Linked DNA regions of Homo sapiens. The protein of the gene in region 2 interacts with the protein of the main gene of each other region in a pairwise test. Each region holds a gene or a part of one and is shown on either strand. Other genes may lie near its edges.

Region 1 (7,875 bases), on a different chromosome or scaffold from region 2:
AATTAGTCGTGTGTGGTGGCACATGCCTGTAAACCTAGCTACTCCACAGGCTAAGGTGGAGTTCAAGGCTACAGTGAGTTATGATCACACCACTGCACTCCAGTCTGCAGAACAGTGGGGTACCCTGTCTTTGTAAATAATTTAAAAATAAAATGAAAAATTCTGTTACAGGAATTTAATTTAAAAAAGAAAATTGGAAGAAAAAACTCACTGAAGTTAGAAAAATCATGAATAGCGGATTTTCAAAATTAGATTAAAAATAAGGGAAATATAAGAATAGCTTCAATCAAATGGAGCAGGCCAATGAAGAAGAAAAAGAATATTAATGGGTACACTGGAAAGACTTAGGGGTATTACAACACTTAATTTCCTCCTCTGAGAGGAAGTCAGCCGATTGTGTCTCAAAGAATTGCATTAAAAGAAAGTACAAAACCTTTTAAAAGTTCAAAGATTTTGGGAAATTACCTGGTTCAGTCTACTCAATCAGATTAAAAAGGACTGCATGATATTAAGTAATTTAGTCAATGCCACTCTTGAAATAACTAAATACAGAATCAATGCTTCAAATCCTGATCATCTGATCCCAAGAACAGAGACGCTTCTGGACTAAATTCAAGACAAACTTTTGCTATTATACCAAGGTCGCACAAAAATCTATCTAGCTCAGCGCTAACATAAAAATCTTTTGCTATTTGGGTCTTGCACCTTTCAGCTTTAAGAAATGGGCATAAAAATAAAAATAAAAAAGATTCCCTGCTTTAGAGAAAATAAAGTAGCTTTGTGAGTGCCCAGGCTGTCTTATTCATAGTATCCATGATATCTACAATTACTGGTACATGGTAGGCACTCCAGTATTTTTAAGAGTATAAAAATTTTTGAAAAATGAATCGTTCAAAACCTAAAATATATGGTGGAAAATATATGAGTCTTCTGATACCCCCTCAGGGAACATTACTTTTTGCCATTCCATAGCCTCTTAGCCTTTTGGCTGTCTTTTCCAATTTCCTTTTCCTTTTTAATGTATCTTCATAAATTATGAAAGATTAGTTGACAATGCTTAAGGCAGCAATCCACATTAAAAATCTGTAATTGTAATAAAACATCCATTAAGTTTATTTTTAAAGTCACTTTAAGCCAGTAGTGTCTTATTTTTACTCCCTTTTGAAACAGAAGCCCCTTACAATGAGGATTTTGAGGAACCTGTCCTGTGTCCCTCTTACAAAGTTCCCATTGGTAATTCAGAGAGGTCCTCAGGTTGAGAACTGCTGGACTGAACTCCTTTTATTGGCTCCAACTCTTCTTATTTCTTCCTATGAAGAAATGCTAGTCTTTATTGAGTTGAGAAAACATTACAAGAATCTGTGAAACAAAGCTTCTAATACCTGTATAAAACTGAAAACCTTGTGACTTTATTGGTAAACAGCCAAGAAACACAAGAGACTACTAGTAGCCTCTAGAAAGAGGTACAGGTCGATGAAGTGACCAAAACCGGATGCTGATTTGCTGATTCTGCCAATTTCTTGTTAAATGGCTTTCAGTAAGTGATTAACTTTTATTTTCTAAATTCAATAGAGATCTGCTGGTACTCTGTAAGATACTGTATGACTAATAGTAACGGTTCCCAAGACTTAAGAAAACGTAACTGCAAATTGGCCACAAGTCCAAGGGGTCGGGGCCTCTGCTATCAGCATTGACCTTTACTCTCGGGAGTTCATATTTCCATCTGTAAAACTAGAAAAGATAAAGGGACTTATTCACTGAGCTGTTGTGAGAATAAATGAGCACACGAAACCATTTGGCAGTGCCTAGTACACAGTAAGCAATCTAATATTATTTATGTCATTGTATCCATATATATATGGATACATACATATATATGGATACATGGATACATACATATATACGGATACATACATATATATGGATACATACATACATATATATGGATACATACATATATATGGATACATACATATATATGGATACATACATATATATGGATACATACATACATATATATATATGGATACATACACCTGGCTAATTTTTTTATTTTTTAGTAGAGACGAGGTTTCACCATGTTGGCCAAAAAGAAACAAAGGAAAAGTCCTATCAATTAGATAGCAGTTCTATATTACAGGCAATAATATTTTTTCTTAAAAAAAAAAAAGGTAGAGGATGATGGAAACCGCTCCTCCCACAAGTAAAACAGCTGGAGCTCTCAATCTCAAATTGCCAATCCGTCACTCACATATTCAGATCTAGGGCCACTAATCATCATCCGTGGTCCCGAGCTGTGAGAGCAGTAGCAAACAAATAGGAAGAAAAAGAAGAGACACCAAACATCAAAGGGCTGGATAGCTTGTAAAAAACCAAAAGTACCTCTAGTATAGGCGACACTAAAACTTTACAAGTGAGTCAAAACGGCCCCCTATGGAGTTGGAATGCAACACCCAACTCCGTCCCCACCTCTCGGAGCTCTCAGCCTACACGCTGCAGGGGCGCGAGCCACAGCCAACCTGGGGAAGATGCGACCCAGGTGCCCGCCCCAGGCCGGGGCGCCGAGTGCCAGCGCCAGGTGCAGACGCCGCCCCGTCTCCGCGGAGCCCGGGGATGCCCACGCCGGGGCGGCGGCCGGGAACCCCGGCCAGCGGCTCTCCGGGACCCCAGTCCCGCCTGCGCCCTCTCCAACGTCCGGACACGCCGTGACAACGCGGCCGGGCCCGGGGCCCGCCCCCGGCCGGTGACCGCAGTGCGCGGAGGCTGAAGTCGTAGGTGGGCGTCTGGCTTCCCCGGCCTCCTCCATCCCTCCCCGAACCTGAGCCCCGGCTCCGTCCGCCTCCCAGCCGTCTCACCGGCCTCCCGCCCGCCTCTCCGCCGCGCGCGCCCGCCTTCCGGCCTCCCAGCGCTCAGTCCTGCCGGAGGCCGACGGGAGCCGCCGCCTCCAGCTCGCGCCTCCGCTTCCTCTCGGACTCCTCCGGCTGCCCCTCACCCCGGCAAGTGGCCAGGAGAAAGCCAGCTCGCCGCTGGGCCTCCTCCCACGCTTCCCGGCCGCGACCAATGGGCCCCCGCCGCCGGGAAGCCGCGCCCGCCCCCTGGCGGTGGAGGACCAAGCGGGCGCCCGGGCCGGCCAGAGGGAAGGGCCGGAGAGCGGAGGGAGGGGTCTGCGGTCCCGCCCACCGCCCCCGGCCAGGCGCTGCACAATCTGAACTTGCCACGTGGGAGCTGCCGCCGCCGCAGCGGCCCTGCGCCGGGTGGCACTACGGGAGGGAGAAAAATGTGTCACCGCCGTCTCCCCACCGTTTACACGCACAAAATCCCAGCCTCAAGGGCAGAACATTTTAAATGACCCACCCATCCTAGAGATGCGCCAGTTAGGTCATCTTATATATCTTGAGATAGCTGAGATGGTCAGATCAACCAAGGACCTTGGGTTATTTGCCGTTTGACTTCTTGAACCCTAGGAAACTGATTCTGAAAATCCTACTGTCCAGCGTCATTAGAATTCTGATCACCTTTAATGCACCACCCAAGAAGAACAGTAGTCCTTGCATTTTCCAAGTCACGTTTATTTTTTAAATTATAAGATACACAATCGTTAGAAATATTTTTTCTCAGGAGATTTCCTACAATTGTGTTGATAATTGGGAAGTTAATCCAAATCTTACTACATAAGACCTTAGAATGCAAAATTATTTCATAATTCAGATCCATATTCTAAAATAATGAATAACTGTTACCTAGTATTTGACAGAATATTGGGATCATCAGTGGTTGCAGAAATTAAATTGCATTTAAAAATAGGGTTTGACTATAGTGTGTTAATATAGAATTAATAATCTACCAAATTTTAGCTTTCCTCCAAAAATATAAAACACACAAACTAATAGTAACTATGAATTCTGGAGTTTGTGATCCGTGATCAGGGGAGAAAGCATGAAATGAATTCTCATTGTCTTCCATGTGCCAATATTATGCTATTTGTGTATTACTTAAATCAAAAAACTAAGACTCCAAAACTGAGTTTAAATATCTTGCTCAAAAATACAAGATAGTAAGTTATGAAGCTGGAATTCCGGCCTAGCTTCATGTAGCTCCAAATAAACAAAAAGGCACTTTGCTTATTATAGTACCAAAAAATCATAACACTTACTGTACACATGCCTCTCCTAGACTGCTATGTCTCACTGAAAGAGTTTATGAAGCCTCTTGAGTAGGGAGGTCACGGTGTATTTCTGAAAGAGCAATCTGCTCTGTAACCGAGCCAACCAGATTGGAAATTACATGTGACATATTCTTATAGCACCACACCTGAAACAATTCCTGTGCATAAAGTTTAATGTGTTAGTAGCCTATTCTCCACTGACCATAAGATATAGCTTAGAACCCTTTGGTAGGTAATGAAATTAATAACAATGGGTCACAACCAACATTTTGTTGCTGTTGATTCACTGAAAAATAGAAAAAAAAAACAGTTCAAAGCATAAATTCAGGATAAGTATTCTTCATGAAACATTTGTACAGCATCATGTGTGGGTGAGTGTCTGTGTGTCTATGTCCTGGATACAGTAGAAATTATATTTCTTAATATGGGTTTCAATTTTTTTAACATTGGTAAATCACTTCTTTAGGACTCCTGTTAATCAGCCAGTTCTTACACCTATAAACGAGTAAGGATAACTTCCTACTTTTACTTGGCAGGAGGTAGGGGAGCCAGGAGAAGTATTCAGGATTAATGATTAAGCTTAATAAAACCACAGAGCTTTACAGCTCCAGGAGGTATAAGCCAAAGGTGTTGGCTATTACAATAACTACCGATAATTTATATTATATAATAATAGCTACTGATAATGTATATTTCTAAAGCTGATATTTATTGTGTGCTTATTGTGCACCAGGCACTTTTCTAAGCACTTTATATATATAGACTTATTTAATTCTCACAATAATCCTATAAATACAGCGGAGAAAAGTGAAACTTGCTCAAGGTCCTTCTGCTATGACCAGACAGAGCTAAGATTCAAACTCACGTGCTCAACTTCAAAGCCCAACTTTTTTGTTGACTCGAAAAGAATATACAGAGAGTGTGACATCCAGCTTCTGAGTGTCATCCTTCATAGCACAAGCAACAAAAGAGAGGATTAAATATGGATGATGTTGAGAAAGGCAAGAAGATTTGTATTCAGAAGTGTGCCCAGTGCCACACTGTGGAAAAGGCAGGCAAGCACAGGACTGGGCCTAATCTCCATGGTCTCTTCGGATGGAAGACAGGTCAAGCCGTTGGATTATTTTACACAGATGCCATTAAGAACAAAGGCATCACCTGGGGAGAGGATACACTGATGGAGTATTTGGAGAATCCCAAGAAGCACATCTCTGGAACAAAGTGATCTTTGCCAGCATTAAGAAGAAGGCAGAAAGAGCAGACTTGATAGCTTATCTCAAAAAAGCTACTAATGAATAATAATTGGCCACTGCCTTATTTATTACAAAACAGAAATGTCTTATGACTTTTTTATGTGTACCATAATTTAATAGACCTCACACACCAGAATTCAGATCATGAATAACTGACAGAATATTTTGTTGGGCAGTCCTGATGTAAAACTAAGACTGGCTTGCAGTTAAATGAATATGTTCAGTTTTTTTGAATTTTAATAGTAATCCAATTCAGTAAATGCTATCACTGTTTACCCTTTCTAAAGACATGATTTGATTAGACTTTGTTAGTAATGTTCAGCTTTTCACAAAGATGGTGAATGCCATCTTAAAACATATTGGAGATTGGTTTTATATTTGGATTTATATAACTGGTTATGTGAATATATTTAAATACTGGAGAAATTCCTTCACTATCTCAGAACCAAGCAAGATTCACCTGTGTTTTGTGTTCATTTGCCTCTTAAAGGCAAGGGTTGAAGATAAGGTAGCAATGTCTACTTTATATTTTTGGCCTTAACTATGTCAATCTAATTAGAATTCCCTGTATTTAAAATAGTTCCTTTTACTTATTGAAAGGCATTTTAGTGTGGTGTATGTGTAATATCAAATAAAGATTATTTAACACTTCTCACATTTTATAGATGATCTGTAAGATAATATGCTTTTAAAATAGTAGCAAGTTAAACTTCACTCTTGAATTATTTACAATCTAAGTCAAACTAAGTTATAATTTAGGATTGTCTTTAAACAGCCATTCAGAGGCTGGGCGTGGTAGATCATGAGGTCAGGAGATTGAGACCATCCTGGCTAACACGGTGAAACTCGTCTCTACTAAAAATACAAAAAATTAGCCGGGCGTAGTGGCGGGCACCTGTAGTCCCAGCTACTGGGGAGGCTGAGGCAGGAGAATGACGTGAACCCGGGAGGCAGAGCTTGCAGTGAGCTGAGATCGCACCACTGCACTCCAGCCTGGGCCACAGAGTGAGACTCTGTCTCAAAAAAAAAAAAAAAAAAGCCATTCAGAAACAGAAAATCGTAGAACTGCTGTGTATTTGTGATTGGGAATGGTGCTTTTGCCAACTTAAAATGATTAAAGTAGAGGAGATATACACAAATTTTAAAATTATATGTGATCATAAGGCTTAAAAACAAAACCACAAATCATGATTAAAAGAAAGGAATGTTCATTCTCTCAATAGGTGCCATATTTTATATAAAACTATAACCTGCTTTATATTACTGTAACTATATAAGAATATATAAAAAATGTATATATAAGAATTAGATAATATTGTTAAATACAAAATTTCCAAAAAGCCTCAGAATTTTAATTGCACCCACCCTCAAGAAGAAGAGTCCACTTGGTATCATTTTTCTGTATATGGAGTAGTAAATTATAGGCAAATATGGCTACCAACAATTCCCCCATTCCTGTAAGTTCATGCCACTTTGTTTTTTACCATCAAGAGGTCAATCTATGTCCTCTTCTCTTGAACCTAGGCTGGCCCCGGGACTTATTCTGACCCATAGAATGCATGGAGGAGATCTTATGTGACTTATGGGCTTAGACCCTAAGAGACCTTGCAGCTTCCATTTTCACTAGCTTCAGGATCTAGTCACCATATAGGAAACTCAGACAACTACTGAATAATGAGAAACTACATGCAGAGAGAGGCCTAGCTCTCTCTCTCCATCCACACCATCCCAACCACTTCCCCAAGGCACCAGCTATATGAGTAAAGTCGTGTTGCATGTTCTAGCTCCAGCTAAGCTCCTACCTGAGTATATCACATGAGTAACTCCAGACAGTACCACATGGAGCATAACTGCCCAGCTTAGACCAACAAACCCACAGAAACTTGAGAAATAACATACTTAAAAAAATTTACTAAGTATTGTGGTAGTTTGTTACACAGCAATAAATAACTGAATCAGGGAAGAAAACATTTGTAGGGGGAAAAGAGTTGACCAACTCTGGGGGTAGGATTACTTTAAAATATTCAAGCATGTTTATATTGGATTATAAACTCAAACCTGTGGCAAGATGGCCAGAAACTTGCCTAGCTTCTAAAGAATATAGCAGAAGAGAGAGAAAAAGAGAGGTAAAATAATAAAACTGAAAGTAAACGTGTCAAATTTTATACCTATACAGGTTAAAATACCACATCTAAGTGTCATTTGAAAATTATTATTCAGAGTTTTTATAAAAATGTGAATTTAAAACCCTTAAACTTCATCCTTGCCTGTAAGGGCAAAATAGTACAGTTCAAAAAGCTGGAGTGCGCACAGATTTCATGGCACTGTATTTGATACATTAGCAACACAGCCTATAAAATGTGGTTTAATTTACTATGAAACATGGAGGATACAGTAGAATGGCATTACAGCAAATGTATCTTTGCACAAAAAAGACTCTAAGTTTTTAATCTATTA
Region 2 (7,104 bases):
ACTGCTGCTACTACTGATTACTAGTAGTATGACTCACTAGTAGGCAGCCAATAAAAATGCATCGAAAGGAGTCCCATCTGCAGCCAGAGTATACCACAAAACTGTTTCAGAGCTGGAGGAATATCTATCACTGACGGTATAATCTGAATGAGTCTTTCCCTTGTTTTGCTAAAGTAGGAGTCAATCATGTTAACAGTGAACTTGAGTTAATAACAATGCCTTTTTTTTTGTTTATTTGTTTCAGAGACGGAGTCTAGCTCTGTCGCCCAGGCTGGAATGCAGTGGCGCGATGTGGGCTCACTGCAAGCTACGCCTCCCGGGTTCACGCCATTCTCCTGCCTCAGCCTCAGCTGGTACTACAGGCGCCTGCCACCAGGCTCGGCTAATTTTTTTGTATTTTTAGTAGGGACGGGGTTTCACCGTGTTAGCCAGGATGGTCTCGATCTCCTAACCTCATGATCTGCCCGCCTCGGCCTCCCAAAGTGCTGGGATTACAGGCGTGAGCCACCGCGCCCGGCCCATACCAATGCATTTCTAAATGGTCAGAAATATCTGAAGAAATAAAGCCATTCATCAATTAGTATGTCTTCTTTTTTTTTTTGAGACAGAGTCTCACTCTGTCGCCCAGGCTCGAGAGCAGCGTCATGATCTTAGACCTCATGAGCTTAGACCTCCCAGGCTCCGGCAAACCTCCCATCTCAGCCTCCCGCGTAGCTGGGACTATGACAAGCATCACTGCACCTAGCTAGTTCTTTTTGGGTTTTATTTTGTTGTATTTTTTGTAGAAATGCGGTCTCGCCATGTTGCCCAGGCTGGTCTCAAACTCCTACACTCAAATGACCCTCCCGTCTCAACCTCCCAAATTGCTGGGATTACAAGCACCGTGCCTGGCCTCAGCTGTTCTTAAACTGAAAAACTGGAATAAAGATAGTTGCCTTGTTTAGCTGAGACACTGGCCCTTCGAGTAGATGTTCACTGTACCCGTGTATACCTTATGAGCACAATGACTCTCTGCATCAAAATATTATTTCTTAGAATTGTGCCTATCAAAGTGAGGCATTCCAAAAAAAAAAAATTAAATCCAATTATCTAAATATTCCCGTTAAAACAACAACAACTAGTTCCTGCCAGGCATGGTGGCTCACGCTTGTAATCCCAGGACTCTGGGAGGCTGAGGGAGGCGGATCACCTGAGGTCGGGAGTTTGAGACCAGCCTGACCAACATGGTTTCTACTAAAAATAAAAAAGTTAGCCGGGCATGGTGGGGGGTGCCTGTAATCCCAGCTACTCAGGAGGCTGAGGCAGGAGAATCGCTTAAACGCGGGGGGCGGAGGTTGTGGTGAGCCAAGATCACGCCATTGCACTCCAGCCTGTGCAACAAGAGCGAAACTCCATTTAAAAAAAAAAAAAAGTTCCTCCACATAATTTATGTTCTTCCACTTTTCTGCTTTAGATGTGGTCTAAAACTATTTTTTTTTTTTTTCCCAGAGAACACACTGTGTTCTCAACTTCATCTTCAGGTTCGGCCTAGACAAAAAAAAGAAAAAAAAGAAAGAAAGGTGGGAATGTACCTGTAAACTGGTTCTATGACCCTTCATCTTCTCCGGAAGGCTTACTTTGGACATTTCAGCCCGCCAAGTCTAAATGATATATATCAAAAAGGTGGAGGTAGTGCTATAGGCTCAGATCGAAGATTAGACTTGCTAATAGAATGTTGATCCCATGAGTAATGCTCACAGCTGTGGCATCCAACAATGGAATTAACATTTCAACAGGAAGCAGAGAGCCATCCCAACAGAAAGGGCCACTAGATCCTGCTTCAGAGCACCTAACAACAAAAAATTACCCTTCCAGAGGCTATACTAAGTGCGCCTCCTAGGATCCCACCTACGGATTTTTAAAAATGAATTATTTGGTTATAAAACGCAGCAAGTGCTTAGTTTGACAAACAAGATCAGTTGGTTAAAACACCGACATGGAAAATCCGTTTTTTAAAGTGTCAAAATGATTACGCCTCCTAATGGTCCACGCATTTTTCACATGCCTTTTTTCCCCTCCCAGAGAAAGGAGCAGTCGACAAACGCACTTGGCAAATCCTCTAGCAATTACCCTGTACAACTCAGCCCGTCTTATCTCCAAAATGAACGACTCATTACAAACTCAAAAACGAGGTCACTGAATTCTCCTTTGCACTTCGCCCAAGGACTGCAGAAACCAATGCTACATTTTTGCAGGAACCCACTTTTGATTTTCCACGGTCTCCTTCACAATGCGCGTCTGGTTAGCAGCTCCTGCCTGGGCGAGCTGCTTCCAGGAGACTAACACCGTCCAGGCTGGCGTTCGCTCAGCGCCTCTTTCCTAGAGGTAGCCTGGCCGATCCGAGGCACCGGGCAGCTCCATGTCCATTGAATAATGGCGTTTGCAATTCAGCCTCCCCGCCTGGGCGACTCGACACCTGAAAACTCGCCGCCCAAGGTTTTTGAAATCGGGTAACGCTGGAGAGAACCGACACGAAGGCTGACAAGGGAGACGGCGAGAGCAAAGAAAGGCAAGCCCGCACCGGGGCAGAGAATGCTATGGGAGAGCTGCGAGGCGCACCCGACACGCCGCGCCCGAGCCCCTCCGCCTCCACCCCCCGCCGAGGGCTCCGTCCCCGGGCACTCCGCGCGCCCTGCGCGGCTCCCTACGGGACGGCTCCAGGAGCGCCCGGCCCAGCAAAAGCGCCCCTGTGCAATTCTGCCCGCCCCGCCGCCCCTGCAGCAGCGCCCCCAAATCGCGCCCGCCCCCTCCCCCACGCCCCATTGTTCCTGGGTGGCCGCGGGCAGCGAGCGCCCCCGGGCTGGGCGGGTGCTGAGGACCCCATGGCCCCTACTCACCCACTACTCCGCACAGGAGCACGAAGCACAGCAGGAGCGCCATGGTGGCTGCCGTGCCGTGGGCGGCGGCTGCAGGTAGGCGGCTCTCGCTCCTGGTCCCAGGCTCCCCGCGCCTCGCGCGCTCCCGACTGGCTCGCGGCGGCGGCGGCACCTCTGCACCCTCCGCCCCTCCTCCCAGCCCCCGCTCGGCAGGTGAACTCGCGTCACTTCCGGCAGCGGCCCGGGCCGGGCTGCGAGCGCCGGCTTCTCCAGCCGCGTGGGGTTGCCTTGGCAACCGGGCGAGGCGCTCTTCTGTCCCCGGGACCCTCCCGGCGCCGAACTCTCAGCCTCCCGGCGCGCGGCGTCGTAGGTCGCGGGCGGCCGCCTCCCACGCCGCAAGCCTGCGCAGGGGTCCCCGCCTCCATCCCTTAAGCTAAACCAGGGTTTTGCGCGCGGGGGTGGGGCAGCCCGTCTCCCACATACTGAAATTGCGTTGGCGCCCTCCTTTAAGGCGAGGCACGGGACACTCCCAGGGGCCGCCACTAGGGCGGCTCCTACCCTCCGCCCCGCCTGCACCCACCCGTCCCACCCCTCGCGGTTTGCCCCAGGGGCAGGTTCTCTGACCTCATGCTCACGGGATGCGACCTGTGCAGCCCCTGGCCTTCGCTCTCTTAACGAGCCGCTCTGGCTGACATAAAAAGCGCGAGAGGGCTTTTCTCCATCTCTGGTAGGGATAGAGCCCCTCTGCAGCTACCGATTTGGGAAATACCTGAGGTTTTTTCCACTTGCACAGAAAGGCTATTCTAGCCCTGAAGCTGGCTAGTAAGACGCTATAGTCCCAGCTACTCCGGAGGCTGAGGTAGGCAGACAACTATTATCCAATATTAGTGAGTGAGCTTTGAAAGTGGGGCTCAGTAGTTGTGGTTGAAGGCGTCAGTTGGAGTGTGGGGTCGGGGAATTGGAGATCTTGAAAGTTGTTGTCGGCTGCTCTTCCAGATAACGTTTATTTATAACTACATAGAGACTTTGTAGTGCCGCGACAGTTCCATAACAGAAATGAATTGAAGAAGAGGAGCGGTGGGTAAGAGCTTATTCCGCGGAGTGGGGCAGTAACTGGGCAGGTTTCATAGAAATGGCACCTACTTCGGGGTTGCTATGAAAGTTAAATGAGATAATGCACAAAAAATGCTTGGCACCCTGCCTGGCACGTAGTTTTAATTAGCTTCCACTTACTGAGTTCTTGCTTACAGGGTTCCTGCTTATGTAGTCTATAAGCTTACATAGTTTGTAAGTTCCTGCTTACTATCTAGACTAAGCAGGAACCCCCGTAAGCAGAATTCAGTAAGTGGAAGCTAATAAAACTAATATTGGAAAATTCTTATTATGCATTGAACCAGAAAAGAGAAGGGGCAAAGAAATCAGGTATCAAGAAGACCAGAATTGCGCAACTGCAGTTTAGCCTGGTGAGTTGCAATTCTGGCTGCACATGAAAATTACTTGGAGAATGTTTTAAAAATACTAGTGCCTGGCTGGGCGCGGTGACTCACGCCTGTAATCCCAGCACTTTGGGGGCCCAGGCGGGCGGATCATGAGGTCAGGAGATCGAGACCATCCTGGCTAACACGGTGAAACCCTGTCTCTACTAAAAATACAAAAAATTAGCCAGGCGTGGTTGCAGGCGCCTGTAGTCCCAGCGACTCGGGAGGCTGAGGCAGGAGAATGGCGTGAACCCCGGGAGGGGGAGCTTGCAGTGAGCCGAGATTGCGCCACTGCACTCCAGCCTGGGCGACACAGCGAGACTCCGTCTCAAAAAAAAAAAAAATATATCTATCTATCTATCTATCTATATATGTATATATATACTAGTACCTGAGCCTTACTCAAGTGATTCCAATTTAATTTGATTTAAGGGGAATCCTGCTTTACGGCAGCCCAATAAATGACAGATGACCAGTGGTAGTAAGAGGAAGTGGCTTTGCAAAATCATACCATCTGATTGTAAAGTTCTGCCAAAGCTTTTACAAACTAATAAGAGTTCAATACAGACGTAAGACAACATGAGTAACGGCTAGGGACTTCCCATTTGAGCAAACAGGAATTCTACTGGATATAATTGCGTGTAAATAATATTTGGAATTTAAATTTTTACTCACCACACTAAATGAAATCAAGCAGAGAAGAGCAAGTATTGAAGTTGTTCATCTGTTTAACAGTGTTCTACGAGAACTTTTCTATACTCGCTCTGTCGCCCAGGCTGGAGTTCAGTGACCCCATCTCGGCTCACTGCAACCTCCGCCTCCAAGGTTCAAGCGATTCTTCTGCTTCAGCTTCCCGAGTACCTGGGACTACAGGCGCGCGCCACCACGCCCGGCTAATTTTTGTATTTTTAGTAGAGACGGGGTTTCACCATATGGGCCAGGCTGGTCTCGAACTCCCAGCATGTTGGGAGGCAGAGGTGGACGATCGCCTGAGCCCAGGCGTTCGAGACCAGCCTGGGCAACATGGCAAGACCCCCCATATCTACTAAAAATAAAAAATGAGCCGGATGTGATGGCGCGCAGTGCCTGTAGTCCCAGCTACTCCGGAGGCTGAGGTAGGAGGACAAATATTATCCAATATTAGTTTTGTTATCTTCCACTTACTATGTGCAGGAACCCGGTAAGCAGGATCTCAGTAAGTGGAGCTAATAAAGTGAGCCCAGGAGGCAGAGGTTGCAGAGAGCCTTGATCCAAGAAGGAGAAGGAAGCAGAAAGAAGAAGAAAAGGAGGAGGAGGAGGAGGAAGAATTACCCAAAAGGATTTAGGAGGAGGAGGGGGGGGGGAGGAATTACCCGAAAGGATTTAGGAGGAGGAGGGAGGAGGACCGGGAGGACGAAGGGAGGAGGAAGGAGGAGGAGGAGGAAGAGGAACAACAACTACCCAAAAGGATTTTTATCTTAATCCCTTTCCTGGTACTTTTTCTTCTAATTCTTAGCTTTTGCCTCCTTCTGTGTTAGGCATTTGCATACCTATTAATCACTTTTCTTGTTCTAAATACTTCTAGAAGGCTGAAAAAGCACATTTTTTTTTTGTCTTCGTCACTTCTGAAAGCACATACTAGGTTCTCAAGTATTTCTCAAGTTGAATTGAATGCTTATTTTCTATGGCAATATGTTAATAAAATTTAAGTATCTGTGCAACAACAAATCATTGCACCTTAAATATATCTTTTCAGAATGTGCTTTTTTGGGAGAGGGGGACAGGATCTCGCTCTGTCGCCCAGGCTGGAGTGCAGTGGCGTGATCTCGCCCACTGCAACCTTGGCCTCCTGGATTCAAGCGATTCTCCTGCCTCAGCCTCCTGAGTAGCAGGGACTACAGGTGCACTCCACCACACCCGGCTAATTTTTGTATTTTTAGTAGAGACAGGGTTTCATCATGTTAGCCAGGATGGTCTAGATCTCCTGACCTCAGGTGATCGCCCACCTTGGCCTCCCAAAGTGCTGGGATTACAGCCGTGAGCCACTGTGCCCAGCCCAGAATGCGTTTTTTAAAACGTAAGTTTTACATCAATTTTTTTCTGCTGCTTTAGATTACTGAACACAGATTTTTTTAAAATGTACCATTCTAAGATTTAAATAATCTTGAAAGAAGCAGTCGATCTTATTTGGGGAAGTATTGTTCTTTAAAAAGTTACATGAAGTCATTTTTAGACTTTGGTTTGTGACTAAATTATTTCATAAACAGTAGCTAAAATTATGCAGTTATGTGAAATATATTAAAGACACCTTAAAATGCATTTGTGGCTGTTGTCAGCTTGGAAATTATGTCTTCTGGAAGCTATAATAAGATAATCTCATTTATTCTGGAACATATAAATTATTCTTTTTTGTCTTCAAACCAAGCTAAGAAATAGTGCACAGCCATTAAGTGAATTGCCCTGTCTTAGTAATGCACCAAGCACTCCACATTATATAGCCTCTAAACCAGCTTAAAGGTGATGATCCTTGCTCCATCAAGGCTATAATTACAGATACACAAATAACTGTGGTTAATAAAGCATCCATCCTTACAAAAATGTCTCAGCACTAATAGATCTATGAACACACCCATAGATTATTAAAATCCTACAATCATATTCAAAGGTTAATTTATACTTAAGAATTAAAGGATTTTCATCTCTTCTCAGCTTGGAATATGAAGACATGTGAATTAAGAAACTCTCTTTTTTTTTTTTTTTTTTTTGGGACGGATCTCCATCTGTCACCCAGG
Region 3 (7,890 bases), on a different chromosome or scaffold from region 2:
GCACTTTAGGAAGCCAAGGAGGGCGGATCATGAGGTCAGGAGTTTGAGACCAGCCTGGCCAATATGGTGAAACCCCGTCTCTACTAAAAACACAAAAATCAGCCACGCATAGTGGCTGGTGCCTGTAATCACAGCTACTCAGGAGGCTAAGGCAGGAGAATCACTTGAATCCGGGAGGCAGAGGTTGCAGTGAGCCGAGATTGCACCACTGCATTTCAGCCTGGGCAGCAGAGTGGGACTGTCTCACATTAATTAATTAATTGATTAAATGCTAGAAGAAAATATGGTCAAAATCTTTTATAACTCTTGGAGTGAGGAAGGCAATCTCGGCTCACTACAACTTCCACCTCCCGGGTTCAAATGATTCTCCTGCCTCAGCCTCCTGAGTAGCTGGGATTACAGGCACCCACCACCATGCCCGGCTAATTTTTGTATTTTTAGTAGAGACGAGGTTTCGCCATGTTGGCCAAGCTTGTCTTAAACTCCTGACCTCAGGTGATCCACCCACCTCAGCCTCCCAAATTGCTGGGATTACAGGCATGAGCCACCATGCCCCGCCTAATTTTAAAAATGTTTATAAAGACAGAGTCTTACCACGTTGTCCAGACCTGTCTCAAACTCCTGGGCTCAAGTCATTGTCTTGTCTCAGCCTCCCAAAGTTCTGGGACTACAGGTGTGCACCACCACACCTGGCTAATTTTGTTTATTTTTTATAGAGTGAGGGTCTCCCTGTGTTGTCCAGGGTGTCTCAAACTCCTGGGCTCAAGTGGTCCTCCTGCCTCAGCCTCCCAAAGTGCTGGGATTATAGGCATAAGCCACTGCACCTGGCCCCAGTGTGTGTCTTCTGAGGCTAAGTCATAAAGAGATTGCGGCTTCTATTTTGCTTCCTCTTAGATCACTCATTCTGGGGGAAACCAACAATAAATAACAGGAACACACCAGGAGATCAGAGAAAGCTGAGATACAGGCCTAATGCCCAGTCCTCTGTATTCATTTCTAATTGCTGCTGTAACAAGTTACTGCACATTTAATGATGTAAAACAACACAAATTTATCTTACAGTTCTGTAGCTTAGAAGTCTGACAGAGTCTCACTGGGCTGAAATCAAGATGTTGATAGTTCCTTCCCGGTGACTCTAGAGTGAGAATCCAGTTCTTTACCCTTTCTTGCCTTTAGAGGCCACCCGTATTTATTAGCTCACAATCCCCTTCCTCCATCTTCAAACCAGAAACATTGCAGCTCTCTGTGTCTTTTTTCTTTACTCACATCTCCCTCTGACTTTCTTCTGCCATCCTCCTTCATTTTTTAAGGACCCCTGTGGGCCAGGCATGGTGGCTTATGCCTGTAATCCCAGCACTTTGAGAGGCGGAGGCAGGCGGGTCACCTGAGGTCAGGAGTTCCAGACCAGCCTGGCCAACATGGCAAAACCCCATCTCCACTGAAAATACAAAAATTGGGCCAGGCACGGCGGCTCACACCCGTAATCCCCATACTTTGAGAGGCTGAGGCAGGTGGATCACTTGAGGTCAGGAGTTCAAGACCAGCCTGGCCAACATGGTGAAATCCCGTCTCTACTAAAAAAAAAAAAAATTACAATAATTAGTCAGGCGTGGTGGCCAGCACCTATAATCCCAGCTACTTGGGAGGTTGAGGCACAAGAATTGCTTGAACCCGAGAGGGGGAGGTTGCAGTGAGCTGAGATTGCACCACCGTACTCCAGCCTGGATGACAGAGCAAGACTCTGTCTCAAAATAAAAATTAAGATAAATAATAAAAAATAAATAAAAATCAGCAAATTAGGCCAGGTGTGGTGGTGGCTCATGCCTGTACTCCCAGCACTTTGAGGTGGGAAGGTTGCTTGAAACCAGAAGTTTAGACCAGCCTGGGAAACAAAGTGAGACCCCATCTCTACAAAAATAAAAATAAATTAGCCAGGTGTGGTGGGACGTACTTGTACTCCTAGCTACTAGGGAGGCTGAGGTGCAAGAATCGCTTGAACCTGGGAGACGGAGGTTGCAGTGAGTTATGACAGTGCCACTACACTCCAGCCTGGGTGTCAAGGGTCTTTGAAAAAATAAACAAAATAGGCTGGGCGTGGTGGCTTACACTTGTAATCCCAGCACTTTGGGAGGCTGAGGCAGGCAGATCACAAAGTCAGGAGTTCGAGACCAGCCTGGCCAACACAGTGAAACCCCGTCTCTACTAAAAATACAAAAATTAGCCAGGCATGGTTGCACGCGCCTGTAGTCCCAACTGCTCGGGAGGCTGAGGCAGGAGAATGGCTTGAACCTGGGGGGGGGCGGAAGTTATAATGAGCCAAGATTGTGCCACTGCACTCCAGCCTAGGCAACAGAGCGAGACTCCGTCTCAAAAATAAAAATAAAAATAAATCAATAGAGCCTGGTATGATGGCTCACGCCTATAATCCCAGCACTTTGGGAGGCCCAGGTGGGTGGATCATCTGAGGTCAGGAGTTTGAGACCAGCCTGACCAACATGGAGAAACCCCATCTCTACTAAAAATACAAAAAATTAGCCAGGCGTGGTGGCACATGCCTATAATCCCAGCTACTCAGGAGCCTGAGGCAGGAGAATCGCTTTAACCGGGGAGGTGGAGGTTGCGGTGAGTCGAGATAGCACCATTGCATTCTAGCCTGGGCAACAAGAGCAAAACTCCATCTCAAAAATAAATAAATAAATAGATAGATAGGCTGGGCACGGTGGCTCACGCCTGTAATCCCAGCACTTTGGGAGGCCGAGGTGGGCGGATCACCTGAGGTCAGGAGTTCAAGACCAGCCTGGCCAATATAGCGAAACCCTGTCTCTACTAAAAATTTAAAAAATTAGCCAGGCATGATGGCGGGTGCCTGTAATCCCAGCTACTCGGGAGGCTGAGGCAGGAGAATCTCTCGAACCTGGCAGGCGGAGGTTGCAGTGAGCCGAGATCACACCATTGCACTCCAGTTGGGCAACAAGAGCGAAACTCCACCTCAAAAACAAAATAAAATAAAATAAAATCAGGAGATTGGTCAGCTTAATTCCATCTGCAACCTTAATTCCCTTTTGGCCATTTAACCTATCATATTCACAAGTTCCAGGGATTCATGCAGGGACATCTTTGGTGACCATTATTCTGTCTACCACACTCTCTAGAAGAGAGTAGATGTGAGAAACAGCATCTGGAGAGGGAGGAGCCAGCAGGAGAGGGAAATATCACAGACGCCAGAGGAAGAGAGTTCCCAGAAGGGTAGGTGCAACAGTAAGGGATCCCTCTGGGAAGTCAAGCAAGAGAAGACCTGAAAAACAACCATTGGCCGGGTGCGGTGGCTCACGCCTATAATCCTAGCATTTTGGGAGGCCGAGGTGGGTGGATCACTTGAGGTCAGGAGTTTAAGACAAGCCTGGCCAACATGGTGAAACCCTGTCTCTACTAAAAATACAAAAATTAGCCAGACATGGTGGCAGGCACCTGTAGTCCAAACTACTTGGGAGGCTGAGGCACGAGAACCACTTGAACCCTGGAGGCGGAAGTTGCAGTGAGCCGAGATGGCACCGCTGCACTCCAGCCTGGGCGACAGAGTGAGACTCCGTCTCAAAATAAGTAAATAAATAAATAAATAACCATTGGGTCTAGCGTCTTGGTGACACCAGCCACTAGGTGTCAGGGCAATGCTGGAGGCAGCAGCTAGTTTATGGCGTGGGCAGCAAGGAAGAAGTGAGGAAGTAGAGACTGGGAGTGTAGAATCTTTCCAAAAACTTGAATGTGGAGGGGTAGATGGGATAATGCCGGGAGAGGAGGCTGGTGAAGGACCTCTTAGTGAAGGGAGATTTGTTGCTGTTTCTGAGATGGGAAAGAGAAACAAGTTGCAGTGTAGATGGGGAGGATGGAGAGGTTGAAGGTGTAGGAGAGATGGGTCACCATCAGATGGGACGTCTGTGAAGGAGAGACCTCATCTGGCCCACAGCTTGGAAAGGAGAGACTGACTGTTGAGTTGATGCAAGCTCAGGTGTTGCCAGGCGGGCGCCATGATAGTAGAGAGGTTAGGATACTGTCAAGGGTGTGTGTGGCCAAAGGAGTGGTTCTGTGAATGTATGGGAGAAAGGGAGACCGACCACCAGGAAGCACTGGTGAGGCAGGACCCGGGAGGATGGGAGGCTGCAGCCCGAATGGTGCCTGAAATAGTTTCAGGGGAAATGCTTGGTTCCCGAATCGGATCGCCGTATTCGCTGGATCCCCTGATCCGCTGGTCTCTAGGTCCCGGATGCTGCAATTCTTACAACAGGACTTGGCATAGGGTAAGCGCAAATGCTGTTAACCACACTAACACACTTTTTTTTTTCTTTTTTTTTTTTGAGACAGAGTCTCACTCTGTCGGCCTGGCTGGAGTGCAGTGGCACGATCTCGGCTCACTGCAACCTCCGGCTCCCCGGCTCAAGCAATTCTCCTGCCTCAGCCTCCCGAGTAGCTGGGATTACAGGCATGTGCCACCACGCCCGGCTAATTTTTGTATTTTTAGTTGAGATGGGGTTTCACCATGTTGGCGAGGCTGGTCTTGAACTCCTGACCTCAGGTAATCCGCCAGCCTCGGCCTCCCAAAGTGCTGGGATTACAAGCGTGAGCCACCGTGCCCGGCCAACAGTTTTTAAATCTGTGGAGACTTCATTTCCCTTGATGCCTTGCAGCCGCGCCGACTACAACTCCCATCATGCCTGGCAGCCGCTGGGGCCGCGATTCCGCACGTCCCTTACCCGCTTCACTAGTCCCGGCATTCTTCGCTGTTTTCCTAACTCGCCCGCTTGACTAGCGCCCTGGAACAGCCATTTGGGTCGTGGAGTGCGAGCACGGCCGGCCAATCGCCGAGTCAGAGGGCCAGGAGGGGCGCGGCCATTCGCCGCCCGGCCCCTGCTCCGTGGCTGGTTTTCTCCGCGGGCGCCTCGGGCGGAACCTGGAGATAATGGGCAGCACCTGGGGGAGCCCTGGCTGGGTGCGGCTCGCTCTTTGCCTGACGGGCTTAGTGCTCTCGCTCTACGCGCTGCACGTGAAGGCGGCGCGCGCCCGGGACCGGGATTACCGCGCGCTCTGCGACGTGGGCACCGCCATCAGCTGTTCGCGCGTCTTCTCCTCCAGGTGTGCACGGGAGTGGGAGGCGTGGGGCCTCGGAGCAGGGCGGCCAGGATGCCAGATGATTATTCTGGAGTCTGGGATCGGTGTGCCCGGGGAACGGACACGGGGCTGGACTGCTCGCGGGGTCGTTGCACAGGGGCTGAGCTACCCAGCGATACTGGTGTTCGAAATAAGAGTGCGAGGCAAGGGACCAGACAGTGCTGGGGACTGGGATTATTCCGGGGACTCGCACGTGAATTGGATGCCAAGGAATAACGGTGACCAGGAAAGGCGGGGAGGCAGGATGGCGGTAGAGATTGACGATGGTCTCAAGGACGGCGCGCAGGTGAAGGGGGGTGTTGGCGATGGCTGCGCCCAGGAACAAGGTGGCCCGGTCTGGCTGTGCGTGATGGCCAGGCGTTAGCATAATGACGGAATACAGAGGAGGCGAGTGAGTGGCCAGGGAGCTGGAGATTCTGGGGTCCAGGGCAAAGATAATCTGCCCCCGACTCCCAGTCTCTGATGCAAAACCGAGTGAACCGTTATACCAGCCTTGCCATTTTAAGAATTACTTAAGGGCCGGGCGCGGTGGCCCACTCCTGTAATCCCAGCACTTTGGGAGGCCGAGGCGGATGGATCACTTGAAGTCAGGAGTTGACCAGCCTGGCCAACATGGTGAAAGCCTGTCTCTACCAAAAATAGAAAAATTAATCGGGCGCTATGGCGGGTGCCTTAATCCCAGCTACTCGGGGGGGCTAAGGCAGGAGAATCGCTTGAACCCGGGAGGCGGAGGTTTCAGTGAGCCGAGATCGCGCCACTGCACTCCAGCCTGGGCCAGAGTGAGACTCCGTCTCAAAAAAAAAAAAAAAAAAAAAAAAAAAGAGACTTACTTAAGGTCTAAGATGAAAAGCAGGGCCTACGGAGTAGCCACGTCCGGGCCTGGTCTGGGGAGAGGGGAGGATAGGGTCAGTGACATGGAATCCTGACGTGGCCAAAGGTGCCCGGTGCCAGGAGATCATCGACCCTTGGACTAGGATGGGAGGTCGGGGAACAGAGGATAGCCCAGGTGGCTTCTTGGAAATCACCTTTCTCGGGCAGGGTCCAAGGCACTGGGTTGACAGTCCTAACCTGGTTCCACCCCACCCCACCCCTCTGCCAGGTGGGGCAGGGGTTTCGGGCTGGTGGAGCATGTGCTGGGACAGGACAGCATCCTCAATCAATCCAACAGCATATTCGGTTGCATCTTCTACACACTACAGCTATTGTTAGGTGAGTGGCTCCGCCCCCTCCCTGCCCGCCCCGCCCCGCCCCTCATCCCCCTTGGTCAGCTCAGCCCCACTCCATGCAATCTTGGTGATCCACACAGCTGACAGCCAGCTAGCTGCTCATCACGGAGCGTCCTGCGGGTGGGGATGTGGGGAGGTAACTAACAGGAGTCTTTTAATTGGTTTAAGTACTGTTAGAGGCTGAAGGGCCCTTAAAGACATCCTAGGTCCCCAGGTTTTTTGTTTGTTGTTGTTTTGAGACAGGGTCTGGCTCTGTTGCCCAAAGTGAGGTCTAGGATGCCCTTAGTGTGCACTGGCGTGATCTCAGTTCATGGCAACCTCTGCCTCCCTGCCCAAGGGATCCTCCCACCTTAGCCTCCCAAGCAGCTGGAATCACAGGCGTGCACCACTATGCCCAGCTAATTTTTGTTTTTGTTTTTTTTTGGTAGAGATGGTGTCTCGCCATGTTGCCCAGGCTGGTCTCAAGCAATCTGTCTGCCTCAGCCTCCCAAAGTGCTGGGGGGATTACAGGCGTGAGCTACCATGCCCCACCAACACCCCAGTTTTGTGGAAAAGATGCCGAAATTCCTTTTTAAGGAGAAGCTGAGCATGAGCTATCTTTTGTCTCATTTAGTGCTCAGCAGGAAAATTTGTATCTAGTCCCATAAGAACAGAGAGAGGAACCAAGGGAGTGGAAGACGATGGCGCCCCAGGCCTTGCTGATGCCATATGCCGGAGATGAGACTATCCATTACCACCCTTCCCAGCAGGCTCCCACGCTCCCTTTGAGTCACCCTTCCCAGCTCCAGAGAAGGCATCACTGAGGGAGGCCCAGCACCATGGTCCTGGCTGACACATGGTTCAGACTTGGCCGATTTATTTAAGAAATTTTATTGCTCAGAACTTTCCCTCCCTGGGCAATGGCAAGAGCTTCAGAGACCAGTCCCTTGGAGGGGACCTGTTGAAGCCTTCTTTTTTTTTTTTTTTAAGAAATAATCTTGCTCTGTTGCCCAGGCTGGAGTGCAGTGGCACAATCATAGCTCACTGTAACCTGGCTCAAGCGATCCTCCTGAGTAGCTAGGACTATAGGCATGTCACTGCACCCAGCTAATTTTTTTTTTTTTTTTTTTTTTTTTTTTGCGACATAGTCTCGCTCTGTCACCAGGCTGGAGTGCAGTGGCACGATCTTGGCTCACTGCAACCTCTGCCTCCCGGGTTCAAGCAATTTTCCTGCCTCAGCCTCCTGAGTAGCTGGGACTACAGGCGCGTGTCACCACGCCCAGCTAATTTTTGTATTTTTAGTGGAGACAGGGTTTCACCATGTTGGCTAGGATGGTCTCAATCTCTTGACCTGGTGATCCATCCGCCTTGGCCTCCCAAAGTGCTAGGATTACAGGCGTGAGTCAACCTCACCGGGCATTTTTTTTTTGAGACGAAGTCTTGCTCTTGCTGCCCAAGCTGGAATGTGGTGGCATGATCTCGGCTCACTGCAACCTCCACCTCCTAGGTTCAAGCGATTCTC
Region 4 (7,022 bases), on a different chromosome or scaffold from region 2:
GCTGATTGACAAGTCAAGTAAGATGAAGACTAGGAGATGACCATTGGATTTAGTAATAGGAAGGTCCTTGGTGACCTTGCAAGAGCACTTTCAGGAGAATAGTGAGGAAGAAAACCTGATTGGTGTGGTTTCAAGAGACAACAGGAGGAAGAGCATTGGAGACTGCAGTATGGACAGCTCTTTGGAAGAGGTTAGCTGTAAATTTTTCATATGTCGGTTATTTGAAAGCACTGTAGTCGTTCCCATAGTAAATTTTTATTTCCAGCTTAAGCTACTGATTAATACCTACTACACTTGGATTGTTTTAATCAATGACTGGTGGAAATAAAATAGCTATCCTACTGCTGATCATAATAATAATGTATACTTAACTTTCTAAACCAATAAAGCGTGTCCTTTTTACGTAGTACATTTCAGAGCCCATAAAAATGCTTGGGTGGGCTGGGCGAAGTGGCTCATGCCTGTAATCCCAACACTTTGGGAGGCCGAGACTGGAGGATCTGTTGAGCTCAGGAGTTCAAGACCAGCCTGGACAACATAGGGAGAGCTCATCTCTACAAAAAACTTTAAAATTAGTTGGGCGTGCTAGCACACACCTGTGGTCCCAGCTACTTGGAAGGCTGAGGTGGAAGCATCTCATGGGCCTGGGAGATTGAGGCTTCAGTGAGCCATGATTGAGCCACTGCATAGTTTCAAATGTAGTAGGTGTATAAAAAGAATGCAATTTTTATCTTAAGGCATGAGTTCAGGTTCTTGTTTCTGCCCTCAGCAAGTTAATGTCCAAACCCAAATACAAAATAATCAAGGTACGCAGTAAAATACCAGATTTACACCATCCTGACTGGATAAATGTGCCTTTTCCATAGCAAATACAGCCATCTGTTGCATTGTAGATGTAAAATGATTAAAATATTTCAAAGTTTAGGGTTATAGCTACTGATTTTTTAAATCCAATAATTTTATCTAAAAGATAACAGGTCCTTTAGATGTGGAAATCTTTTTTTTTTTTTTTTTTTTTTTTTTTTTTTTTTTTTTTTAGCTGAGGAAAATATTAAGTTGGTGCCTTTTGTTTTGCTCTTGTTTTTTTCTCCAGGAATTTTTCATTGGTTGGCTCTCCTTTCTTGTTCTCATTGCTGTCATCTCACACATCCTTTCTAACTTTTTTCTTTTGCATAGCTTCTTAAGTTAGGCCCTTCCATCACTGATTTCCTTACTGCTTATAATTTGGATTTTAAATTTCTATTGTGTTTTTATTTAACTTATAGTCTTTTTTTTTTTAGTCCCAGTCCTCTTTAATACTGTTTTTTCCCCCACCCTGAGTTCTTAATTTTTTGTATGTCCCTGAGAGCACAGTATTTTTCTGGATTTTTTTCATTTTCTTATTGTAAGTAATTCTCAGTGGTGTGCTTTTCTTCATGTAGATCTAGTGCACCTCTTTGCTTCTGGTGTAGAATTTTTTCACTGACTCCATGTTGACTTTCTTTTGGTTTTTTTTTTATCCTTTAAAAATGAAAGAACTTCTGAGACTATAATATTGAATTTGTCATACTAGTACCATTCTACTGAAGGTTTTTTCTAGATTTCCTATAAGGAAAATAATTAGAGAACTGGGTTTTGTCTAGGCATTCTATAAAAGACACTATTGTGATGTTTGTAAAAGATTTCTATTTAAAATAACTTTCAGTACTATTAGAACTTAAGTTTATGGTTATGTCTCTGTGATAAGTACTTTTTTTTTTTTTTTGGAGATGGAGTCTCACTCTATCACCCAGGCTGGAGTGCAGTGGCACAATCTTGGCTCACTGCATCAAACGATTCTCCTGCCTCAGCCTCCTGAGTAGCTGGGACCACAGGCACACACCACCACACACAGCTAATTTTTGTATTTTTAGTGGAGATGGGGTTTCATCATGTTGGCCAGGCTGGTCTCTAACTCCTGACCTCAAGTGATCCACCTCAGCCTCTCAAACTGCTGAGATTACAGGCATGAGCCACTGCACCTGGCTAAGTACTTTTTTTTTCCTTGTGTTTTTTTGAGACAGGGTTTTGCTCTGTTGCTCAGGCTGGAGTGCAGTGGCACAATCATGGCTGAATGCACCCTCCACCTCCCAGGCTCGAGTGATCCTCCTGCCTCAGCCTTGAATATCTGGGACAACAGGCACGCACGCACCACCATGCAAGGTTTATTTTTAAATTTTTTTTGTAGAGATGGGGTTTCACACTATGTTGCCCAGGCTGGTCTGGAATCCTTAGGCTCAAGTGATCCTCTTGCTCCAGATTCCCTAAAGTGCTGGGACTATAGGTGTGAGTCACTGCACCCAGCCAAGTACTTTTTAAAATTAAACTGGTAAACAGACATTAGAATTACCAATGTAAACTTTATATCTAAAACCAAAATCAATTACAAAGGATCATTATTTTCCAAAGTAGATACTTTTTTTTAGTGCTGTTCAGTTTTTCTGAAGCTTATCTTTGTTCACAAGGATTGTTAGCACTTCCACCAAATCAGTGTTTAGAAACCTTAAATAATTTAACGTCTGACTTGCCAGTACATTATTAGAGAAACAATTCCAAGACCAAAACATGTTGAATAAGCAGGAGATATACACCAATTTGATTTTAAAATGGACAGCTTTCCTGTCTCTGGCTCTCTCTCATGTTGCCTTAAACACACATATGCTGAAGAAATCATATACAGATACTTGCATGCATTTAATAAACTATCCAATAAGTGGTGCTTTTAATAAATTCTGAATACAATCAATTAAAAGATTTGTGCACATTATTATTTAGGTATGGTACCAAGTAAATCAGAAACAAATGCAAGAGCACGAATGGTTTATTTAGCTACCTTTCCATATTGGGTCTTGATGACATTAGATACTCTGCTGTATTTTATTTTTTAAAGTAAACATATTAAAACTAGCCAAATAACCTATATTTTCTTTTATTACATTATGATGCCTTTTTTGGTTTGCCTGAGTTTTTTTGGTTTTTGTTTGTTTGTTTTTGAGATGGAGTTTTGCTCTGTCTCCCAGGCTGGAGTGCAGTGGTGCAACCTCAGCTCACTGTAGCTTCCGCCTCCTGGGTTGAAGCGATTCTCCTGTCTCAGCCTCCCAAGTAGCTGCGACTACAGGTACATGCCATCACACCCAGCTAATTTTTGTATTTTTAGTGGAGACGGGGTTTCACTATATTGGCCAGGCTGGTCTCAAACTCCTGACCTCAAGTGATCTGCTGTGGCCTCCCAAAGTGCTAGGATTACAGGCATGAGCCACCACACCCAGCCTGCGTAAGTTTAATTAAAAAAACAAAAATATTCTGAGTGTGACTTTGTTGAAACAGTTTATATAGGCATTTTAACTTTGGTGGCAGTTTTAGTCCTACTATCAGTCATCTTTTTTCCAGTAGCCCAGCATTGCTGCTACGTTAATTTAAATCTGCCCCTCTGCCCTCTCCTCAGTCTTTTGGCTGTATTTTGCCCATTGGCTGTTAATGCTGATTTTTTTTAAACACAACAAAAACTGTGGATTGCTTATAAAAGTTTTCCCACAATAGGCTTATTTTTATTTCACTTGTTTATTCAGAATATCCTTTCAACTTGTTTTTCGGTTATCTCCTTGGTCAGTTCTAGAATTTACCAAGCTCTCAGTCAGTGTTCAATCTCCTGTGCTGAACATGAGATTTCTTAGGCCTGGATTCAGCTCCTTCTCAAAGAGAGTTAAATATCAGTGCACTTCACCCTTTGACCTTTGTCTTTTGCTGAAACATGTGCCACAAACCATATTTTTTTCCTTTTTAGGAAGCAATGACAGAAGCATATAAGAGTGGAAATCAAATAGTAATGACCACTTCAGATTCTGTGTCATTTAGATATTTTGTTCTAAGTAACAGAAAACCTAATTTAAACTGTCTTAAAAAGATCCTTTATTGATACCCGTAATAGGAAAAGCCCAAGGCTTGACCCTTTTATCTGTTCTGCCTCACTCTGTATACTTGCTATCTATGAAATATAAAAATGACAAAAGCAATTTTAGGTATCTCATTTATACACCATAGAAAAATAAAGTGAATGTATTTCTCTGGCATTCCAAGCAAAGAGTTTTATTGGACTGGTCACTTGCTCACCTTTAAATAAACCACAATAGCTAGGGAATGTGATATGTTACATGGCCTTAGATAATAAAGACTGACCCCTCCAAAGCATATGAGCAGTGAAGAGTAGTGGAGTTGGGTACCAGTGGAACAGGTAGGAATGGAGTCTAGGTAGACAGGGGACATCTGAGGAAATTAAAAACACATAGTTGATTTTCAGTCAAAATAATATATTAAATTCATGTTTGGGCACCTGGCAATAACTGATGTTAAAAAAAAAAAAGCGCCAAAGTATAGTCAGAATAGTAAATAGGATAACCATCTCTATAGAGTACAAGCACAAAGTAATGAGTGAGGCTGTAGCTGTTTTGGAATTGGCCAAAATGGAAATCATCCAATATCTGATCTCAGACGAAAAGGAATTAAATTACAATTTGATAACAGAAAGATAGCCGGAAAATCACTGAATACTTAGACATTAAATAACACATTTCTTTTTTTTTTTTTTTTTTTTTAAGACAGAGTCTCACTCTGTCACCCAGGCTGGAGTGCAGTGGCGCGATCTTGGCTCACTGCAACCTCCACCTCCCAGGTTCAAGCTATTCTCCTGCCTCAGCCTCCCGAGTACCTGGGACTACAGGTGCACACCACCACACCTGGCTAATTTTTGTATTTTTAGTAGAGACGGGGTTTCACCATGTTGGCCAGGCTGGTCTTGAACTCCTGACCTCAGGTGATCCGCCCACCTTGGCCTCCCAAAGTGCTGGGATTATAGGTGTGAGCCACAGCACCCAGCCCAAAATGTTTTCAAAAGACATATATGATGAAGACTGTTATCCAAAATACACAAAGAACTCTTAAAACTCAACAAAAAGAGAGGTGGGTATGGGTGCTGGCTGAGGTCACTCAGTGCTGACCATCCTCTTCTCAAAGCCATGTCTCTAAGACATCATGGTGAAGGTGAAGGCCAGAGTAAATAGATTTGGGCCATATTGGGCACCTGGTCACCAGGGCTGCTTTTAACTCTAGTAAAGTGGATATTGTCACCATCAATGACCCTTCATTGACCTCAACTACATGGTCTGCATGTTCCAGTATTTCTACCCATGGCAAATTCCACCACACCGTCAAGGCTGAGAATGGGAAGCTTGTCATCAATGGAAATCCCATCACCATCTTCCAGGAGCAAGATCCTACCAAAATCAAATGGGGTGATGCTGAAGCTGAGTATGCCGTGGAGTCCACTGGCATCTTCATGACCATAGAGAAGGCTGGGGCTCACTTAATGGGGGAGCCAAAAGGGTCATCATCTCTACCCCCTCTGCTGATGCCCCCATATTCATAATGGGCATGATCCCTGAGAAGTCTGAAAACAGCCTCAAGATCATCAGCAATGCCTTCTGTACCACCAACTGCTTAATCCCCCGGCCAAGCCCATCCATGACAACTTTGGCATTGTGGAAGGACTTGTGACCACAATCCATGCTGCCACTCCTGCCCAGAAGACTCGATGGCCTCTGTGGGAAACTGTGGCATATGTCTGTGGGGCTCTCCAGAACATCATCCCTGCATCTACTGGTGTTGCCAAGGCTGTGGGCAAGGCCATCCCCGAGCTGAACAGGAAGCTCACTAGCATGGCCTTCCGTGTCCTTCTGCAAACGTGTTGGTTGTGGACCTGACCTGCCATCTGGAGAAACCTGCCAAATATGATGACATCAAAAAGGTGGTGAAGCAGGCGTCAGAGGGCCCCTCAAGGGCATCTTGGGCTACACTGAACACCAGGTTGTTTCCTCTGACTTTAACAGTGACACTCACTCTTCCACTTTCGATGCTGGGGCTGCCATTGCCCTCAGTGACCACTTTGTCAAGCTCATTTCCTCGTACAACAGTGAATTTGGCTACAGCAACAGGGTGGTGGCCCATATGGCCTCCAAGGAGTAAGACTGCTCGACAACCAGCCCCAGTGAGAGCACAAGAGGAAGAAAGAGACCTTCAGCTTCTGGGCAGTCCCTGCCATGCTCAGTCCCCCACCACACTGGGAATCTCCCCTCTTCACAGTTTCCATGCAGACCCCACAAAGAGCTCTATCTTGTCGTGTACCATCAATAAAGTCCTCTGTACTCAAAAAAAAAAAAAAGATAGAAAATGAACAACCTGATTTTAAAAATGAGCCAAAGATCTTAATGGACACCTCATCACAGAGGATATACAGATGGCAAATAAACATATGAAAAAGATGCTCCACGTCATATGTCATCAGGGAAATGCAAATTAAAACAATGAGATCCCACTACACACTTACTAAAATGGCTAACTAAAATCTAGAACGCTGACAACACCAAATGCTGGTGAGAATGTGGATTAACAGGAACTCTTATTCATTGCTAGTGGGAATGCCAAATGGTACAGCTACTTTGGGAGACAATTTGGTGGTTTCTTAAAAAAACTAAACATACTCTTACCATCCAGCAATCATGCTCCTTGGTATTTACCCAAAGGAGTGAAAAACTGTCCACACAAAAACCTGCATGTGGGTGTTCATGTCAGCCTTATTCATAATTGCCAGAACATGGAAGCAACCAAGATGTCCTTCAGTAGGTGAACAGATAAACTGTAATACATACAGAGAATGACATATTATGCAGTCCTAAAGAGAAACTATGAAGCCATGAGAAGATACAGAAAACACGTATTATGAGGGAAAGAAGCCAATCTGAAACAGCTGCATACCGTATGATTTCAGTTATATGACATTCTGGAAAAGGCAAAATTATAGAGACAATAAAAATATCAGGGGTTGGGTAGAGAGAGGGATGAATAGGCAGAGCCCAGAAAATTTTTAGGGCAGTGAACCTAATCTGCCTGATGCTATAATGATGAATACATGTCATTGTAAATTTGTCTAAACCCATAGAATGTATAACACC

The links.
Region 1: the proteins of CXADR (region 2) and FAM3C interact in binary tests that used the Homo sapiens proteins (3 or more experiments, as listed by UniProt).
Region 3: the proteins of CXADR (region 2) and VKORC1 interact in a two-hybrid assay, tested with the Homo sapiens proteins (one study listed by BioGRID).
Region 4: the proteins of CXADR (region 2) and ANKRD46 interact in binary tests that used the Homo sapiens proteins (3 or more experiments, as listed by UniProt).

What each region holds. Positions count from the first base shown.
Region 1 is NC_000007.14:121,393,307-121,401,181, forward strand, and holds the start of FAM3C (protein FAM3C precursor), read right to left. Parts: upstream 3,003-7,875; 5' UTR 2,856-3,002; exon of another isoform or gene 2,819-2,855; intron 2,716-2,818; exon of another isoform or gene 2,383-2,715; intron 2,166-2,382; exon of another isoform or gene 1,644-2,165; intron 1-1,643. UniProt on the Homo sapiens protein: May be involved in retinal laminar formation. Promotes epithelial to mesenchymal transition.
Region 2 is NC_000021.9:17,508,945-17,516,048, reverse strand, and holds the start of CXADR (coxsackievirus and adenovirus receptor isoform 1 precursor), read right to left. Parts: upstream 3,007-7,104; 5' UTR 2,920-3,006; coding exon 2,877-2,919; intron 1-2,876. UniProt on the Homo sapiens protein: Component of the epithelial apical junction complex that may function as a homophilic cell adhesion molecule and is essential for tight junction integrity.
Region 3 is NC_000016.10:31,091,794-31,099,683, reverse strand, and holds the start of VKORC1 (vitamin K epoxide reductase complex subunit 1), read left to right. Parts: upstream 1-4,886; 5' UTR 4,887-4,954; coding exon 4,955-5,127; intron 5,128-6,262; coding exon 6,263-6,372; intron 6,373-6,817; coding exon of another isoform or gene 6,818-6,901; intron 6,902-7,890. Other genes in the region: zinc finger protein ENSP00000375192-like, read left to right, coding at 4,306-4,800.
Region 4 is NC_000008.11:100,549,738-100,556,759, reverse strand, and holds part of ANKRD46 (ankyrin repeat domain-containing protein 46), read left to right. Parts: intron 1-5,026; exon of another isoform or gene 5,027-6,220; intron 6,221-7,022.